Linked DNA regions of Homo sapiens. The protein of the gene in region 2 interacts with the protein of the main gene of each other region in a pairwise test. Each region holds a gene or a part of one and is shown on either strand. Other genes may lie near its edges. The genes, in order: ANKRD28 and ANKRD26.

Region 1 (3,822 bases), on a different chromosome or scaffold from region 2:
TGCTGCCAAACTTGGAAGGACATCAGTTGTTCTCTTTGACCCTTGACAAAATGGGAACTTTACAAAGGGGGAAAAATTACTTTTTGTGGCTGGGCACAGTGGCTTACTCCTATAATCCCAGCACTTTGGGAGGCAGAGGCGGGAAGATCACTTAAAGCCAGCAGTTTGAGACCAGCCTGGGGAACAAAGCGAGACCCTGTATCTACAAAAAAGTTTAAAAATTAGCCAGGCATGGCATGTGCCTATAGTCAGAGCTAGTCAGGGGGCTGAGGTGGGAGGATCACTTGAGCCCAGAGGTTGAGGGTGCAGTGAGCATGATCATTATACTGCACTCCAGCCTGGGTGACAGAACAAGACCCTGTCTCAAAAAAAAAAAAAAAAATCCTTTTTTTATCAAGGCCAATATAGCATAGATGAAAATATGTGGGAGAACTGGAAGCAACCAGATGCCCAGTAGTTGAAATGTATAACTAAACCATAGTATAATCACACAATGAAATACTGTATAACAATGAAAATGAACCAACTACAGTTACATACAACATTGATAAATTTCATATAATGCTACACAAAAATGCCAGATATGAAATAATACATACTACATGATTCCATTTATATTAAGTTTTTTAAAAACTCTAAACTGTAGGCTGGGTAAGGTGGTTCACATCTGTAATCCCAGCATTTGGGAGGCCGAGGCAGGCAGATCACTTGAGGCCAGGAGTTTGAGACCAGCCTGGCCAACATAGCGAAATCCCATCTCTACTAAAAATATAAAAAATTAGCTGGTCATGGTGGCACACACGTGTAATCCCAGCTACTCAGGAGGCTGAGGCAGGTGAATCACTTGAACCCAGGAGGCAAAGGTTGCAGTGAGCCAAGTTTGCACCACTGAACTTCAGCTTGGGTGACCGAGCAGACTCTGTCTCAAAAAAAAAAAAACAAAAAAAAAACTATAGTGTTTATGACTCCAAGTTGAAAGCAAGGAAATTACTACCCCATAAGTCAGGATAGTAGTTACCATTGTGGAAGAAGAAAGGTGTAACGACTGGGTAGAGGATATATGGAGGCTTCTGGTATGCTGGTAATGTTCTCTTTCTTAATCTGTATGGTGGTTATACAAATGTATGTTATGTGATAAAACTATTAAAGTTCCATATGGTATAATTGAAGCTTGGCATCACACTATTATCACTTCTCTCCCGCTCCGTCCTCAAGACTGAGTCTTGTACCAACTGAGGTACCAAATGTTTCCTCCTTGGTTTGCTGTGTTGACACTTTGTGGTAACTTACGACTAAGGTCAGTTGTCTTCCGCTTAAAAAAAGGGAATATTTACAAAGGAAATATTTGTTTTGATTTAGTAGTTTTTAAAGTTCATCTGCTTAGTTTGTCTACTGTTTTTCTTCAAGAGACTGTGACCCCAAGAGAAAAGTTAAATTGACAACTAAGTGTCATTCATTCAACACATATCTTTTGAGCACCTGCCCTGTGGCTGATTCATGAAGCTGTACACATTTAAGATTTCTTAGCATCAAAAAGTTTCCTTACATAACTACAAATTAAATTTTTTTATTTTTTCTTACCTTGACACTGATATAACTGCAAATTAACAGTAAATCTCTGCCTACCATCCTGAAAGAATATTCACGATATGTGGTGTTTTTCTTATTCTAGCCCAGTTTTTTCTGTGAATTCAGATGGATACGGATAAGTTGTGAGACCTTGGGGAATCATTCTTCTCTGGGCCTGCTTCCTCTTCTGTTGTCTAGTCTAACATCCCCTTCCACCCTAGGTTTCTATGGCTATTCTTTTTCTACTTATTAGAAACTTGCGAATCATGCTGGTTACAGCAATTTATTATAAGCTAAGTAATGTAAAATATGTCTAAAGTTGAAGTACTTTAGGCTTATTTCCTTGTCTTTGGTGAAATACATCTCAGGATGCTTAATTTTTAAATTTTATCTTTAATTCTAGGCTATACCCCAGCTTTGGCCTGTGCTCCCAATAAGGATGTGGCTGATTGCCTGGCTCTCATTTTGGCCACCATGATGCCTGTCTCATCAAGTAGTCCTTTATCATCCTTAACATTCAATGCCATTAACCGTTATACCAACACCTCAAAAACAGTCAGCTTTGAAGCTTTGCCCATCATGAGGAATGAACCTAGCTCCTATTGCAGTTTCAATAACATTGGAGGGGAACAGGAGTACTTATACACTGACGTGGATGAGCTCAACGACTCCGATTCTGAGACCTACTGAGAGGCTGAGGAGGAGGGAGTTCTCACAGTAAAGCTTCAAACTGTGCTTTTTCAGGAAAAAGGCACTTTGATATTCACGTAGAAATTCAACCTAAGAGGAAAGATCCCACAGTGAGCCAATGTTAAGAGATCTGATGGCATTAGGAGGAAGAGTTTTAAAGGCAAGTTTTACAAAAGGAACTTCTAGAATCTTGAAATAGACCTGACTGAGGAAAACACATTGATGTCAGAATTCTTTGTGGAATTGTTTAATTTGGTTTTGCAGTGCCAGGAACAATTGGGGACACTGTGCACTCTAACCTGCTTACACAAGCAACACTATTGTAACAGAAGAAATAAAGACACTAGATTTAAATTTTATCAATAAAATTACAACTAAATTTAAAGGCAATAAAAGTTTGGTACAGTAGGCATTATGTGCACAGCAAATTGCAAAAGGACCAAATAACTGAAAGGTTTTTTTAATAAAATGCCATTTTGTGGAAACTGGAGTAGATTAAATGAAACATTACCTAAACCAAACTGCAATATTTCTGGAAATGAAGCTGAGATTTGGTTTTAAATGTTGAGTTTTTTTGGGTTTTGTTTTTTTTTTAAGAAAACATCTGAAAGCCTTCCAATGCTGTATTAAACCATGAGAGAAAGCAGATGTATTTTTACATTTTTTTCTTTTACAGAACTATTTCAAATTTCCAATTTTTATACTATTAGAATTAAAAACCAGCTGACTGGGTGCAATACGGGTGAAAATACTTGTGACATAGACATTGAGATGGATTGGGGTCAGGCTGTTGCCCTGTTTTGAATGGTTTGGGTTTAAAATAGTACTATTTTTGTTTGAAAATGTAAAGAATTTCCTAGAAAAAAATTCATGAAATCAAAAAGTAGACTATTTCACCCTATTGCAGCTAAGTGGTCCTGGGGCATGGAGTCTTCAACCTCTCTATGAATGGCACACCTTAGTCACTTATGTTACTTTTGTGTCCCCACCATGGGTTGGGGGATTTTTTGTTTATTCTGATCTATGAGTTTTGAAAAAGTGAATAATCAAAAGGAAAATAATTCCTTGTTGTTCATAAATTAAGCATCACTAAAGTCTCTTGAAAGGCATTTCTGTATTGGGCAAGATTTAAAATACTAAAGCCTTAGGTCCTATTCATATTTAAAGTAGCATGTTTGTAACCTGTTACTATTTGGAGAGAGAAGCAGTTGCCTGCCAAATTGAAGACTACCTTTCAAATAGCAAAAGAGAGAGAGAAGGCTGATATTTCGGCTTTTAAATAAAGATTTGTGTGGTTCTGCTTTTACTGTAACTGTCACTTTCCCAGTGAAAATGATTTCATATACATTGAGGGTCTTACAGGTATGGGTAAAGTTCTATAAATTGCAACAAAATGATACCCAATTTCATTTTATCCTTTTTGTATTGTGAAACTGGAAACTTTATGACATTGTAAATTATCAGCTGGTTTTTCTGAATATAAAGTGTGAAAACACAGAACAGTATTTTGATCTATTTGATAATTTTGTGGGTTTTTTGAAGAATTAATGAGCATGTACATAG
Region 2 (3,822 bases):
TTATAAGAATTTTATTTAAAAATATTGAACTCCCTAATGATTTTTCCATTCTTTCAATCCATTTATTCATCAATCATAACCTGAATACCTGTTATGTAGCAGACATAGTCTACTATCTCTTTTTTCTTTTTTTCTTAGACAGAGTCTCCCTCTGTTGCCCAGGCTGGAGTGCAGTGGCCAGATCTCAGCTTTACTGCAACCTCTGCTTCCTGGGTTCAAGCGATTCTCCTGCCTCAGTCTCCTGAGTAGCTGGGACAGCTAATTTTTTTTTTTTTTTGTATTTCTAGTAGAGACAGGGTTTCACTGTGTTAGCCAGGGTGGTCTCGATCTCCTGACCTTGTGATCTGCCCACCTCGGCCTCCCAAAGTGCTGAGATTACAGGCTTGAGCCACCGCGCCTGGCCTTTTTTGTTTTTGAGGTGAAGTCTCGCTTCTTCGCCCAGGCTGGAGTGCAATGGTGTGATCTCGGCTCAATGCAACATCCATCTCCTGGGTTCAAGCAATTCTCCTGCCTCAGCCTCCCTAGTAGCTGAGATTCCAGGCACGTGCCACCATGCCTGGCTAATTTTTGTATTTTTAGTATAGATGGGGTTCTACCCTGTTGGCCAGGCTGGTCTCAAACTCCTAACCTCAAGTGATCTGCCTGCCTTGGCCTCCCAAAGTGTTGGGATTACAGGCGTGAACCACCGCTAGTTATAAGCATATTAATGTAAGTGCGTAGTATTTTAATAAAATGTGGTAGAATATAGACTTGATCTTTGAATTGGAAACATAACAGTAGTGGACATGAAGATTTGCAGAGCTGATTTTTTTTTCTTTTTTTTTTTTTTTTGAGATGGAGTCTCGCTCTGTCTCCTGGGCTGGAGTGAGTTGGCATGATCTTGGCTCACTGTAACCTTCTCCTCCCAGGTTCAAGCAATTCTCGTGCCTCAGCCTCCCAAACAGCTGGGATTCCAGGCACCCACCACCATGCCTGGCTATTTTTTTTGTATTTTTAGTAGAGACGGGGTTTCACCACGTTGGCCAAGTTGGTCTCAAACTCCTGACCTCAGGTGATCTGCCTGCCTCAGCCTCCCAAAGTGCTGGGATTACAGGCATGAGCCACTGCACCAGGCCAGAGTTGATATCTTTGAAGTGAGGATTTTACTTCTATGCAAATTCTTTTCTGTCAGAGGTGAATCCCTATTTTAGTCATGAATATGATATTTATTCCCCTTTCACAACAGGAACTTCATATATATGTATATAAGTGCTGTGTGGTGTTCTAAACTATTTCAGTCTTGCATTAGCATTGTAATACATAATGTAGCTAATCTGCTATGAATTTGGGAATGCATTTTATGACAAATTTACAGAGCTGTCAGGGAAGATGGAAAGTTGCTGATTTCTCATATAAAACTGTCTTCATAGAGCTTGATGTGAATCTCCTGCACTTCTGGAAGCAGGTATTTAACTCATCCCCAGGAAATCAAGCCTGAGAGAAGTTCTGGTGAGCTGCTTGGCTCCTGTGTTGAGACTGGTCTGGTCTCTTAGCATTTGTTTTGGCAAAGAATGTTTGGATGTTTATAGAGGACAGATGAGAGCTCTGGTCAAGTATGAGAGCTGTTGGTGGGAGGGAGAATCCATTTGGGATCCCATATGAAAAGTCCTGTTAAGGGTGTGAGCAGGCCTTAGAAGAGGGTAATCCAAAGTGGATCTGTGGATTCCTTAGGAGCTAAGAGGAAAGAAAGGCCAGAGTGGAGTGCATTCATTCAGGTCAAGGCAATTGCAGGTGAAAACATAGTCTACTATCTCTCAGGACCTTTCCATCTTCAAAACCTTTATGTTTGCATACCTGCCCAGCCTGAGCAAGTTGAGAGATTTAAAATTAGACTATTAGGGCAATCTCAATTGAAGCTTTTCCTCCCTCCTCTTATTTATTTATTTTTTTGAGAGGAGATTATGCTCTGACACCCAGGCTGGAGTAAAGTGGCATGATCTCGGCTTACTCCAACTCTGCCACCAGGGTTCAAGTGATTCTCCTGCCTCAGCCCCCTCGAGTAGCTGGGATTACAGGCATGTACCACCATGTCCGGCTACTTTTTGTATTTTTAGCAGAGATGGGGTTTTACCATGTTGGTCAGGCTGATCTTGAATTCCTGACCTCAAGTGATCTGCCTGCCTTGGCTTCCCAAAGTGTTGGGATTACAGGCGTGAGCCACTGCACCCAACCCCTCTTTATAAACAAAAGTGTTTCTGAAGGTAGAAAATTATAAGAAATAACCTTTAATTACCCTTTTGAAAATTTATGTCTTAAACACGAATATTAGTCATTGGAAATATCTGCATATATTCTATAAATCTAAATATTGAATAAAATGAGCCAACCTATTCATTTGAATCCTGAGTTTCTTTTGTGTTGAAGTTTCTTGAAAACACAATAAGAATTACTTTGTTTTAAAAATCTGTTTTTCAATTTTAAAAATGCTTCCAATTATAGTTGTAATAAATCATGAATTACAAGTGGCATTCCAATGTCAGAGATATTGAAATGTGAGAAAATGAGCATCTTAGAATCACTGAAATACTGTGTTATCTCTAATTTTTTTTTTTTTTTTGTAGACAGGGTCTCTCTCTGTTGCCCAGGCTAGAGTACAGTGGCACAATCACAGCTCACTACAGCCTCAACCTCCTGGGCTCAAGCGATTCTTTGGCCTTAGCCTCCTGAGTAGCTGGGACCACAGGTGTTCACCACCATGCCTGGCTACTTTTTAAATTTTTATAGAGATGGAGTCTCACTATGTTGCCCAGGCTGGTCTCAAACTCTTGGACTCAAGCAGTCATCCTACCTCAGCTTCCCAAAGTTCTGGGATTCAGGCATGAGCCGCCATGCCTGGCCTTATCGCTGATCTTTAAAACATACTGTCAACTAGGTATAATTGTATCATTTCATTTAATTAAAACATCTTTATTAAACAGTAGTAATGGTAATTATATCTAACAATTATTGAGCTGTTATTTGTGCTAGGAACTGTTCTAAACATTTTGCATAGATTCTCATGTAAGCATCCCAGTGGTGTCCTATGAGATAGCTACTATTTTGATCCCCATTTTATTGATGAGGAAACTGAGGCACTTACTAAGCCATAATGAGTAAGTGACAGCTTAAAGTAGGATTCAACCCCAAGTTGAACTGAATCTAAAGGTCAAGCCTTTTCTATTCAGATAGGTTGCTCTTTCATTAATGTGGTGAGTAGTAAGAGCTAATAAATATTGTACTGTTTTCAGAAGAAAATTAAATACTTGTTTTGAAGGCGGAGGATTAACATGTGTATTAGTCTGTTCTCATGCTGCTAATAAAGACATACCCTTTATTATATGGGTAATTTATAAAGGAAAGAGGTTTAATTAACTCACAGTTCAGCCTGGTTGGGGAGGCCTCAGGAAACTTAACAATAAGGGCAGAAGGAGAAGCAAACATGTCCTTGACATGGTGTCAGCAAGGAGAAGTGCCAAGCAAAAGAGGGAAAAGCCCCTTAAGAAACCATCAGATATTGTGAGAACTCACTATCACAAGAGCAGCAGCACGGGGGAACCATCCTCGTGATTCAGTTACCTCCCACTGAGTCCCCCTCACCACACGTAGGGATCATGGGAACTACAATTTGGGATTTGGTTGGGGACACAGCCAAGATGAGATTTGGGTGGGGACACAGCCAAACCATATCAACATGCTATTTAATGTTTATAATTTTATGAACCATTGTATGTTTTGAGACAGTGCACTACAGTTTATAAAAAGTCCTGTCACTCTCATAGGACGGCTCTACATTTGGCCTGTGCC

What was found.
Region 1: the proteins of ANKRD26 (region 2) and ANKRD28 interact in a two-hybrid assay, tested with the Homo sapiens proteins (one large-scale study listed by BioGRID and IntAct).

The regions. Positions count from the first base shown.
Region 1 is NC_000003.12:15,668,707-15,672,528, reverse strand, and holds part of ANKRD28 (serine/threonine-protein phosphatase 6 regulatory ankyrin repeat subunit A), read left to right. Parts: exon of another isoform or gene 1-895; coding exon of another isoform or gene 896-919; exon of another isoform or gene 920-1,169; intron 1,170-1,972; coding exon 1,973-2,259; 3' UTR 2,260-3,822. UniProt on the Homo sapiens protein: Regulatory subunit of protein phosphatase 6 (PP6) that may be involved in the recognition of phosphoprotein substrates. Involved in the PP6-mediated dephosphorylation of NFKBIE opposing its degradation in response to TNF-alpha.
Region 2 is NC_000010.11:27,093,775-27,097,596, reverse strand, and holds part of ANKRD26 (ankyrin repeat domain-containing protein 26), read left to right. Parts: intron 1-3,797; coding exon 3,798-3,822. UniProt on the Homo sapiens protein: Acts as a regulator of adipogenesis. Involved in the regulation of the feeding behavior.